Linked DNA regions of Homo sapiens. The protein of the gene in region 2 interacts with the protein of the main gene of each other region in a pairwise test. Each region holds a gene or a part of one and is shown on either strand. Other genes may lie near its edges. The genes, in order: EHF, FRZB and ELF5.

Evidence for each region.
Region 1: the proteins of FRZB (region 2) and EHF interact in a two-hybrid assay, tested with the Homo sapiens proteins (one large-scale study listed by BioGRID and IntAct).
Region 3: the proteins of FRZB (region 2) and ELF5 interact in a two-hybrid assay, tested with the Homo sapiens proteins (one large-scale study listed by BioGRID and IntAct).

The regions. Positions count from the first base shown.
Region 1 is NC_000011.10:34,644,998-34,648,652, reverse strand, and holds part of EHF (ETS homologous factor), read right to left. Parts: intron 2,215-3,655; coding exon 1,969-2,214; intron 1-1,968. UniProt on the Homo sapiens protein: Transcriptional activator that may play a role in regulating epithelial cell differentiation and proliferation.
Region 2 is NC_000002.12:182,856,537-182,860,191, reverse strand, and holds part of FRZB (secreted frizzled-related protein 3 precursor), read left to right. Parts: intron 1-1,358; coding exon 1,359-1,406; intron 1,407-2,788; exon of another isoform or gene 2,789-3,655. UniProt on the Homo sapiens protein: Soluble frizzled-related proteins (sFRPS) function as modulators of Wnt signaling through direct interaction with Wnts. They have a role in regulating cell growth and differentiation in specific cell types.
Region 3 is NC_000011.10:34,493,245-34,496,899, forward strand, and holds part of ELF5 (ETS-related transcription factor Elf-5), read right to left. Parts: intron 469-3,655; coding exon 235-468; intron 1-234. UniProt on the Homo sapiens protein: Transcriptionally activator that may play a role in regulating the later stages of keratinocytes terminal differentiation. Isoform 2 binds to DNA sequences containing the consensus nucleotide core sequence GGA[AT].

The DNA.
Region 1 (3,655 bases), on a different chromosome or scaffold from region 2:
TAGATAAGGTCACTAGATGACTTCTAAGGTGCTTTCCCATACTAAGATATGATATGAAAATGAAAATGTAGGGAAAAACCTTTTTAACTAGCTTGATTCTTCTTTGATTTAAAATCTAATCAATGCCATCATGATTACATCCAATCTGTGAGATATGTCTGGATAAAATGTGGTGACTCTTTCCTTATTTATGCCTCAGCACATGTACAAGCAGTACACATCACATGACCTTGTTTGCTTGCAACTCCTCTCCCATTATCATATATAAAAGCATATATATGTATGCTTATATATATATATATATATTTGTAAATGCATATGAATCTAGTCTGTTTTCTTCCCCAGACAGATTCTAAACATCTCAAGAACAGAAGCCATGCCTTTAACCTCTCTGACATTCAGTCTTCCCACCTGTAAAATGGGCACAATATTTACTTTGTCATAAAGTTATTAAATGAATTAATTCACTTACAGTGCCTAGTATAAGTAAATACTCAATAAATGTTAGTTGATAGAAGGTCTACACAAAGGCAAACAACAAAAGAGTGAGCAATCTGCCTGGACATTAGGAACTCAGAGGCTACAGCAGCATGCGATGAGACCAAACAAGTCATGGGAAGTCAGAGACAGAAGGTCTAAGATGGCCACAGCACCTCCCAGGCCTCCCTGCCTCAGACCTCAATCAGGGCAAAGCTTTAAAGGAGTGGATTTAATTGGGGGGTGGAGGTAAATATTTTTAATTCTTCAAGTGTAAGTCTGATCTTTTTGAAGATCCCTGAGGGTTATTTATAGAGCCTTGTTTGGTTTGATTCTAGTCAAAGAAAAAAGAGCAGCCACCAATGTGAGGTGGGTGGGAAGCAGGGCATGGCCAGGGAGCTGAATGACATCATCTAAAATGGCCACCGCAGCCACAAGCTCTGCTGCAAGGCCCCAGGTCCTCTTCAGTGTTGATGGCTGTTGCCAGGGTATGACTCTGGTTCACAGCCCTGGAGCTCATGCCGCCCAAGTCCCGGTTACTTGCCCAAACATGGGTTCTACCAAGACATAAATGCCTTTTCCAGTGCAGACAGGCCAACTCCCTGTTCTTAAATATTGCTACTTTTCAGGATGCCCATAGTTCTCAGAAGAGCTAGATTTTTACAGCCACTATCAGGGGAACCTTATGCCAGTGTCAAAACCATTCTGCAAGGTCAGTTGTCCACCCTACTAGGTCTTACATGTCAGTATAGGATATGTTCGTGTATGAATAATCTACCACTCAAAGACAACATCTGGAATGGTGGCCCATCCCTGTGCTAGGGGAAGCCTCAGAGAGACATCTGGGGCATTAGGGCAACAGAAATTCCAGAAACCACCACAGAAACATTCCCCATACACGTGTCTAGACCATATGTTCTAACCCTTTTTTTAAGTTACAGACCTTTTAAGAATCTGCTGAAGTATTGTGAGTTTTTTCCCCTCCCAAAACACAAACATAGTTCTAATTTCATATATCTTCTTACCACCCTTAGGACCCTATCTTAAGAACCTAGGTCTAGAAGGTTCTTTGTGTGTGTGTGTGGGGGGGGTTTTGTTTTGTTTTGTTTTTTGTTTTTTGTTTTTTTTTTTGTAACCATGATGATCTTTTTAACAAGCAAGTGACTGGACTGTTTGCAAAGGAAAGAAAACATTTTCCAAGGATAGTAAGTATTCTACGAATTCCTAGCCAGCTTTTGTCTTCTTGAAAATTATCACCATAAGGAAAGAATTAAATTACACTGGCATTTATAAGGGATTAGGCACACCAGGTACCCTATGCTTCAATCCTGTCCTTTCATCTTCCTTCCATTTCTCTGTCTTGGGACATGGTAATTTGGAGGTGAGACCACTCTTTCTTGTCCCTGACAAAGAATCCTGTCATCTGCAGAATCTCTATTCTTCCAGCTGGCTCCTAGCAGGGTAGGGAGAGACACAGAAAGAGAGAGTCACCGTTCCACTTCAGATGCTGCAAGTTGCTGTAGAGGAGCTGCCCCGCCGTCCCTGCCGCCCGGGTGAACTCCTGCAAACTCATGCTGCAGAGGTGCTCGCCGTTGATGTCGAACTCTTGGAAAGGGATACAATTGGCATCCAGCTGGTTGGTGTCCAGGAGGTGCTGGAGCCACTCCCACACCTGGTACTTGGTCCAGTACTGAGGATGAATTTCATGCCACTGGCCTCCAAAAAACCCACTGGAAACTGCAAAACAGGAAGCAGCCTCATGAGTGACCCCTGGCTGTTCCTGGCCATAGTATCTGACACAGGGATGTACTGTTGGCTGCCAGATATCTCAGAGACACAACCACAGTCCGTGTATGTGCCAGCATGGGTGATGGAGCAGAAGTGCATTTTCATGTCCTCCCTAGCCTGCTACCTACCCCTGGACACTGGATGAGGACAAGAGAGCTGAAGTGCTCAGAGCTCATCCCCCACCTCCCCCAAAGTAAAATATCATGAAAGCTAGAGCATTGCTATCATTTCAGCAATTTATTAGCTTATTGTCCATACCCAAATCGTTCTCTTCCTCTTCTCTCTCACTCACTCTCTCTCATTTTTTCTCTCTTATACATACACACACACACACACACACACACACACACACACACACACCACCAAACTCAGACCATTTTCAACTAAAAATAAGGCCTGAAATTAAGGTTCTTTTCTCTACGATGCCTTTGCTTTTCCTCAAAGTGGTCCAGATTATTGATCTACTAACTGGACTGATATCCCACTGCCCCAGCCTAGTCATTATAGCTATCATGATGTCACTTCCCTACTCAGTTACCTTTAGTAGTCCTCATCACCCACTGAAATTAGGTATAAAGCTGCCTAGCTAGGCATTGAGGCTCTTCACTAACTCTTCTTCAAGTAACCAATAACTTGTCTTTTCTCTATGCTGTTCTTTCAGCTAAGCTTGTGTTCTACCTCTCACTCCTGTTGAATTCCTACCCATCTTTCGAACTCTGACCATCCTGTAAAATCATTCCCAATCCCCCCAACTTGCTTCAAGGGCTCACTGTCCTCTTACCCTCCAGGAGACATGCTTGGTATTTCTAATGGCTTTGTCATGTTCTGCTTTTCTGTACAGGTCTCTAAGTGCCGTCTTATTCTCCTTTGTAAATTGTATGCTTGAGGTCACAGACTGTTTTACTTGTCTTTGTATCACCTAAAAAATGACCTCAGAGACTTTGTCATAGTAGATGCTCACCATATATTTATTTAATGGAATGTATTTTTGAAGAAGAAATAAGGTAGGCATCTGAGGAGTTGGGAGGTACGTTTAAAAGATGGTACATTCACAAGATGGTACATTCAGATGCCAATGAAGAAGTGCAGTTCATTAAACTGGATAAATATTGCTGAACCTAATATGTGCTAACCATCTGTATATGTGACTCATGCTCACTTAAAAAAACATTCCATAGTCTGCCCGAAGTTCTGCGGCAATGGAAAAGACAAACCAGCATCTGAGGGCATGTAACAGGGCTGAGAGAGCTTACAGTTCCCTTGGAAATAGATGTTGGGAAGGAACTCTCTTTCAGGAAAGATGAGTGAAAGGGGCAAGGGGCAAAGACTATTGCATCCCACCAAGCTGAAGCAGGGGAAATCCAACAGAACGTGACACATGGATATTCCA
Region 2 (3,655 bases):
AGCGTAGAAACATTTTCCTTTGAATAAGAATGGAAGAAGTAAAACACTCTCCTTGGCTTAGCTATTTTGAAGTGATTCCCTTTCACCAAGCAAAGTTTTATTTTTCACTCTTATTTCTACCTTTGAACAATAAACATTTCAAATATGGGCCAATATAATTTCTTCCTTTATGAAGACATTATTTTTGTATGTAGTTTATCACATGATTATTCAGAAATAGAAAAACCACTGGCACGTTACTGTAATACTTGGGTACATTTATCATGAATAAATGTTTGAATATAATGAAAGTATTAGTAATTAATAGTTTATGCCCAAGTTGAGCCAAATGTTTTAGAATTAGTGTTTGTTACTTGCTTATCTGTTTGTTTGCTGACTGCTGTCTTTTCTTGGATATTGCTTTTTAAATACTTGCTGATGATTACTAAACCTGGGAAAGTAATTCATTAATTGTAATTGTGGGTGTTATAGTCCTAAAATAGTATTAACCCCTTGTTTAATTTATTCCTGATAGGACCTATAAACAAAAAGGACAAAGGAAGAATACTATTTTCTCCTAGAATAAATAGAGGCATTAAATTAGTTTAGCATAAAGTGTTACTACAAATGTAAAACTCTTATATAAAGTACTAAATTGGAGTGTCAATAAGGATATATTGCTAGGTACAGCATCTCTCAGCACGGTGTTCCGCTGGTGCACTGTTATTCATTAGAGGCTGCTTTCTTAATTAGAACACAGAAAACCTTTATCATTACTATTTTCTGGGATTATGGCATCCTAAAAAGAATCAATAGCAATTTCTAATTATTGTCACATCTATTAATTGCACTGGCTTGAATAGTCCCTGAATAGTAGGTTTCTTTTCTGTTGAAGAATTATTTAGCCTGCAGTTAAAGGACATGAGAATGATTTCTGAGTGTTCGTTTAGGAACTAAGGATTTAAATATATACCAGTTCAGTGTGATATGTCCATTTATTGAAGATGCGTTTGGTTTTTTTTTTGTCATCAAGTCATAAGTGTTGGATGAGTGCCTAATATTTGCATAGGCTTTATCATGATAGGATGCTTATCATTTACAAATTTTGTGAAATTCAAATAAATTATTAAATTCTAAAATTTTATGCACAGTTGAGTATTCAGAAGAGTATTTCCTTATAACCACATGAAAAAATAAGTCTCATCCATACTCAACCCATGAATGATAAGAATGCCGACCTCATGACGTTAATAAAAATCTACTTCCTTCAGACAATTGGATTCTTACCCAAATCAAACTTGTGACTGAGTTAGATTTTTATCTTTAGGAATTCTTGAAATAGATATGTTATAGTTCTTTTTTCTGTCACCTCCTTTCAGATTTTCCTATGGATTCTAGTAACGGAAACTGTAGAGGGGCAAGCAGTGGTGAGTATATCATTATCTTCCTGGTTTTCATTTGTGGTCAGATTAGTCATTGATGTAATTTAGATACTTAAGTCATTCATGGGGAAGCTTGTGCCCTACATTTTACAAGTAAACTTTTTAAAATTCCCTCATTTATATTAATTTTATTTTTAAAATTAGCACGTAGTAAAATTGGACTTTTATTTGGACATATAGTTTGGTACAGATGAATTTTAATATTATGTAGAGATTTATGTAACCACCACCACATCAGGATACAGAACAATTCCATCACCTCCCAAAACTCCTTCAAGCTGTATCCCTTTATAATTACAAGTTTTCCCTATCTTCATCCACTGGCAATCACTCATCTTTTCTTTATCACTATAGTTTTCTCTATTTGAGGTTCGATTGTCCATATAGACAGACTGACAGTACGCCTTTGAGACTTAACCAATTGCTGCATATATCAATGGTGCATTCCTTTTTATTACAGAATATTTTATTACTTGGATGTATGACCATTTGTTCACCCATTCACTCCTTCAAGGAAGTTTGGGTTGTCTCCAGTTTGGAGCAATCGCGAATAGAGCTACTATAAACATTCCAGTACAGGTTTTTGTGGGAATGTAAGTTTTTATTTCTCTAGGCTAAATAAGTAGGAATAGGATCACTGGGTTATATGGTAAGTATATGTTTAGCTTTGTAAAAAAGTGCCAAACTGTTTCCAAGATGGCTGTTCAATTTTGTGCTAGTAATGTATAAGAGTTCCAGTTGTTCTATATCTTTGCGAGCCCTTGGTATTATCAATATATTTTATTGTTAGCCATTTTAATAGGTATGTGATAATAGCTCATCATGGTTTTAAATTGCATTTCCCTAATGGCTAATGATGCTGAATACATTTTCATGTGTTTATTTGCTATCCACATATATGCTTTTTGGTAAAATGTTCAATAATTTTGCCCATTTTAAGTTGGGTTGTTTTCTTAATGAGTTCTGAGGGTTCTTTACATATTCTGGATACAAAAAACATCTTTTGGTTTTATTCATTTTCTCTATTGTTTCACTGTTTTCAATTTTATTGATTATTTCCTTCTGCTTGCTTGCTTTAGAGGTTTATTTTGCTTTTTCTTTTGTTTCTTAGAGTAGAAGCTTATATTGTGTTTTGAGACTTTTTTTTTTTTTTTGAGATGGAGTCTTGCTCTGTTGCCCAGGCTGGAGTGCCGTGATGCAATCTCAGCTCACCACAACCTCCACTTCCTGGGTTCAAGCAATTCTGCCTCAGCCTCCCAACTAGCTAGGATTACAGGTGTGCACCACCACACCCAGCTAATTTTTGTATTATTAGTAGAGACAAGATTTCACCATGTTGGCCAGCTGGTCTCTAACACTTGATCTCAGGTGATCCACCCACCTTGGCCTTACAGAGTGCTGGGATTACACACGTGAGCCACCATGTCCGGCCAAGACCTTTCTTCTAATATAATGTAATGCTATAAATACCCATCTAAGAATGACTTTAGTTGCATCTCACAAATTTTGATAGTTTCATTTTTCTTCAGTTCAAAATATTTTATATTTTTCCTTGATATTTCCTTTGACTTGTGCATCATTTGGGATTATGCTGTTTAATTTGCTGCTTTTTGAGGATTTTCCTATTATCTTTGCTATTTTTCAAATTCTACTGTTGAAGAATATACTTTGTGTGATTTCAGTTCTTTTAGATTTATTAAGGTTTATTCTCTGATCCAGGATATAATCTGTCTTGGTGAATGTTCCATGTACACTTAGAAAAAAGAGTATTTTGCTGTTGGGTGGAATGTCCTTTAAATGTCAATTCAATTTAGTTGATTAATACTGTTATTTAGTTCTTTTATATTCTTGCTGATTTTCTGTCTACTAGATCTATTGATTACCGAGAGAAGGGTGATTAGGTCTCCAAATATTGTGGATTTTTCTATTTCTTTTTTCAGTCTGTCAGTTTTGCTTCATGTATTTTGAAGCTCTGTTTGGTACATACTTGTTTAATATTTTTTATGTCTTATTGGTGAATTGATGTTTTCATTATGTAGTGTCCTTTTATCCTTGGTAATTTTCTCTGCTCTAAATTATATTTTTTCTGATATTGCTATAGGTAATTCAGCTGTCATTTGATTAGTGTTTGCAGGGCAAAACTTTTTCTATCCTACTTTTAACATACTTAAGTCATTGTGTTTTAAATACATTTCTTGTAGACATCATATAGTTGGGTCTTTTTAAAAAAATCC
Region 3 (3,655 bases), on a different chromosome or scaffold from region 2:
TTTTTCTTTCTCTTTTTTTAAATGCACTCAATTTGCATTTTTGTAACTCGCTCCCTTTTCCCTAAAATCCCCAATTCTGGCATACTAGCTTCCAGTTATTGAAGGTTTGGATTAACGAGAACTCCAGTTAGTAAAATTTTGCTGTGCAATTCACACGATGGGAAAGGACTTCTCAAAGTTGTTTGGTCCTAATCCTGGTCCCTCCCCTGGAGGTCTGGCCCTCTGAACACTGACCTTGTGTGCGGATGTTCTGGAGGATGAAGTACAGGTACTCGCCGCAGAGGCCAGCTGCCTCGACGAACTCCTCCTGTGTCATGCTGCACAGCTGCAGGCCACTGATGTTGAAGTTGCAGAAGGAGATGCAATTGGTGTCCAACTTGTACTGGTCGCAGCAGAACTGGAGCCACTCCCACACATGGCGCTTAGTCCAGTATTCAGGGTGGACTGATGTCCAGTATGAGTCACAGGCTGCACCAAAGGAGAAAGAAGTGAGGGACAACAGTCCCAAGACAGCCTTCGAGAGGGCCCCTGAAGGATGCATCAGTTAAGTAACATCCTCATTCCTCAGCCAATAAGTTGAAAGGGCCTCCAGCCCTGGGTGTTCTGCAGAGCCCAGGTCACCTTCTATTCTGCAGAGAAAACCAGAGGGACTGGATCCTACAGATGAACTTTGGCATCATAGAGGGAATGACAGGGGCAAGAAAGAACCAGTCTTGGTGCTGATGCTCAAAAAAAAAGGCATTTAGTGGAGAAAGAAAGAAAACAGCCCTTCAGTTATTTGATTCCAGATAACATGATATCAAAAGCACAAACTCAGCTGTTTGACAAGCTGGGTTGAAATTCTGATTCTACCACTTTCCGCTTGGCAAGGTCTGTGGACATTGAAGTCTCAGTTTCCTCATCTGTAAAATGGGGATAATATGCTCAATGCCCAGGACTATTATGGAGTTTGGGGTTAATGTATGTAGAATGGCACACAGAAACTTACCAACCAATTCAATAGTTACTAAATGCCTACCGTGTGTCAGAAACCATTTGAAGCTGGTTTTGATTCCCTATGCTTTAAAGGGCAGCTGCCCAATGCTGGCTATTTGTTTCTGCACAGTTACTGGCAATCTTGTGCCAAGAACCTTGGGTTATTAGACATTGCCCAGAGTCTGACAGTCCTTGCGTCACCATAGTAGGCACCTCCAGAGGAAGGTGGTCATGGGAGAGTTGGTTGTATTGTTGTTCTTGTGTTTTTGGTGGTGTTCAGAGTAATTTCTATCCTGAGATCAGAGCCCCCACTCCTTTAGAGGAGTCGTGTACATGCCTAGACAGTTGTGAGTGCCATCTGTCTGGGAGGCTGGCATGTGGCTTTGCCTGGCCCAGGGGTAGAGATTTGGTGTTCAACAGTTCTGTCCTTCTGTTCTTAGGAGAAATGGAAAGTGGGGTGGACATAAGGTATGGAAGAGGTGCTGTATTAGGTACTTGGTCAGGCTCTTTGACATAAACAATTATTGTATCTGCCATGGAAAACATTCATTCATTTATTCATTTCATTCAATAAATAAAAGCTTTAGTTTCCTTACTGGTAAAATTGGAATAATTACAGCACCTGTATCATAGTGCTGTTCTGCAGATTAAATGACTTAATATACATAAAAGTACCTGGAACAGAGCCTGGAGGATTTAAATGCTATTACAAACATTATTATTGAATATCTACTATGTGTGCAGCCACACGTTGTATGTTAAGGATTCATGGTGGACAGGTTTGGTCCCCCGTCCCCCAGGAGATCACAGAAGAGGAACTTGAAAGTCATGAAGGACTTTCCCAAGAACCCACGCCAGCGTGTGGCAGAGCTGGATTTGAACCCTAGCCTGAACTTGAAAGCCATTGCTCTCCCCACACCACCATACCGGGTCAGCACAGAGCAGAGATGGAACGTGAAGAGTGGCTGAGGCACGGGGAAAGCTGGAGAGAACACAACACGAGGGCCTGAAAAGAAAGGCAGAGAGCAGAGAGTGGCTAAGGTGACGATGACAGAAAGGGTCCCTCACATGTTATACCCCACAGCAAATAGCAGTGGTGCGATTTGCAGCGTTTAAAGGTGAGTAGAACTCGCACCATTGTCAGTTGCTGATGATTCCAGGCAGGAGGTGGGTCCTCTGCCTGTCAGGTGCTACTACTCACTCAGCACCCTCAGCCAGCCGAGGCGCTACGCGTTCTTGTCGTCTCAAGTTTCTCAGGTCCCCTCAACAATCCTATCCAGTAGGTGTAATTGGGCTATTCCACAAAAAAGGAAATAGAGGCTCCCCTTAAAACTCAAAGGTCTTCCAGAGATCTCTTTTACCACCGAAGGGTGGGTGGAGGGGCAGTTGATTTATTTTATTTAAAAATTTTCAGAATTTTATATGCATTAAGATCAAAGCGTCAATATTGTGCCAGGGTGCTTGAGGCTGATGTCGTAGCCTCTACCTGGCAGATAGGAAGAGCCAGGGAGCCGGTGAGACCGATGACTCAGGTCTTGCTCACTGGCCACTGGCTGGAGCTGGCTTACCAGGCCCGTGGGGGCTCTTCAGGGCAGGCAGGGGTTCCTGGCAGAACAAGGGGCCATTCCTGAGTTCGGCCTGAGCTTTCATCTACTGATTTCTGGCTTTAGTAAACCTGAGGGGCCTTTTGGACTTTACTGGCGTCCTGTGAGAGATGTTTATGAGCCTTGACATTTTTCAGCTGCGGGCCCTGCCCTAGATGGCCATCGGTGTGCGGCCGTCGGAGGGCACAGTTGATTTCATGGAAAGGTTTCGCCAAGGCTCTGTTCCCGTTTCCCTCCCCTCCCCTCTCTGCTTCCACCCCCTTGTTATTTTCTTTGGCACTTGAAGAGGGCCATATTGTTTGCGGAAGCCAAGGGGGCCTCAAGGATTCGGAGAAACGCCCAGGCGGGGAGTCGGCCCCACACCGGGGAGGTGTTGCTGGCGCTGGCTCCCTGCTCCTCGGCGCTCTGCTTTGAAGCTCACCCACAGAGCGGCTTTGTGTGCGGCCTCGGCCCCTGGAGGGGAGCCAGAGCCCTGCGGAGGCTCCCTCTCCTCATCCGCAAGCTCCTTCCAAAGCCCCAGAACTGGGAGGAAAATGGCTGCTCTGGGTGCCATGGCAGGCCTCTTTTCCGGGGGTCCCATCCTCAGGACGGGAGGAGAGTGGCAGAGCGGAGGCTGCCCAGACGAGGGACGCCGCTGTCAGCCCCTCCTCACCAGCCCCTCTCCTGCTCTTCTCTTTCAGGAGGCTCCACGGCCCAGAGTCTTCCCACAGCGACTTCTCTTTGGATGGAACGTGGTCCCCATCTGCCTTCTCCTGAGGAATCTCTGCTCATCCTCACTCCCCCTCGCAGAGGTCTCTTCCTCCTCACTGAGTGCCCATCAGGCGTCCTCCTCATCCCTCCCCTCCAGACCTAGAGCTTTTGCTCGCCCTGAACCAGGAGTGCTTGGAGCCTGGCCTAGCCCACCACAGGCCTACCTCAGTGAGTGTGACTGACTGACCAGGTGACTGACAGTCACTCTCTCCACTTTACACGTGAGGAGATTGCCGTTCCGGGGACTGACGGGACCCCTGTAAGGTCACGCGGCCTGTCAGTAAAGGAGCTACTGAAGAGGGAAAAGTGGCATTTTCCCTCTTACC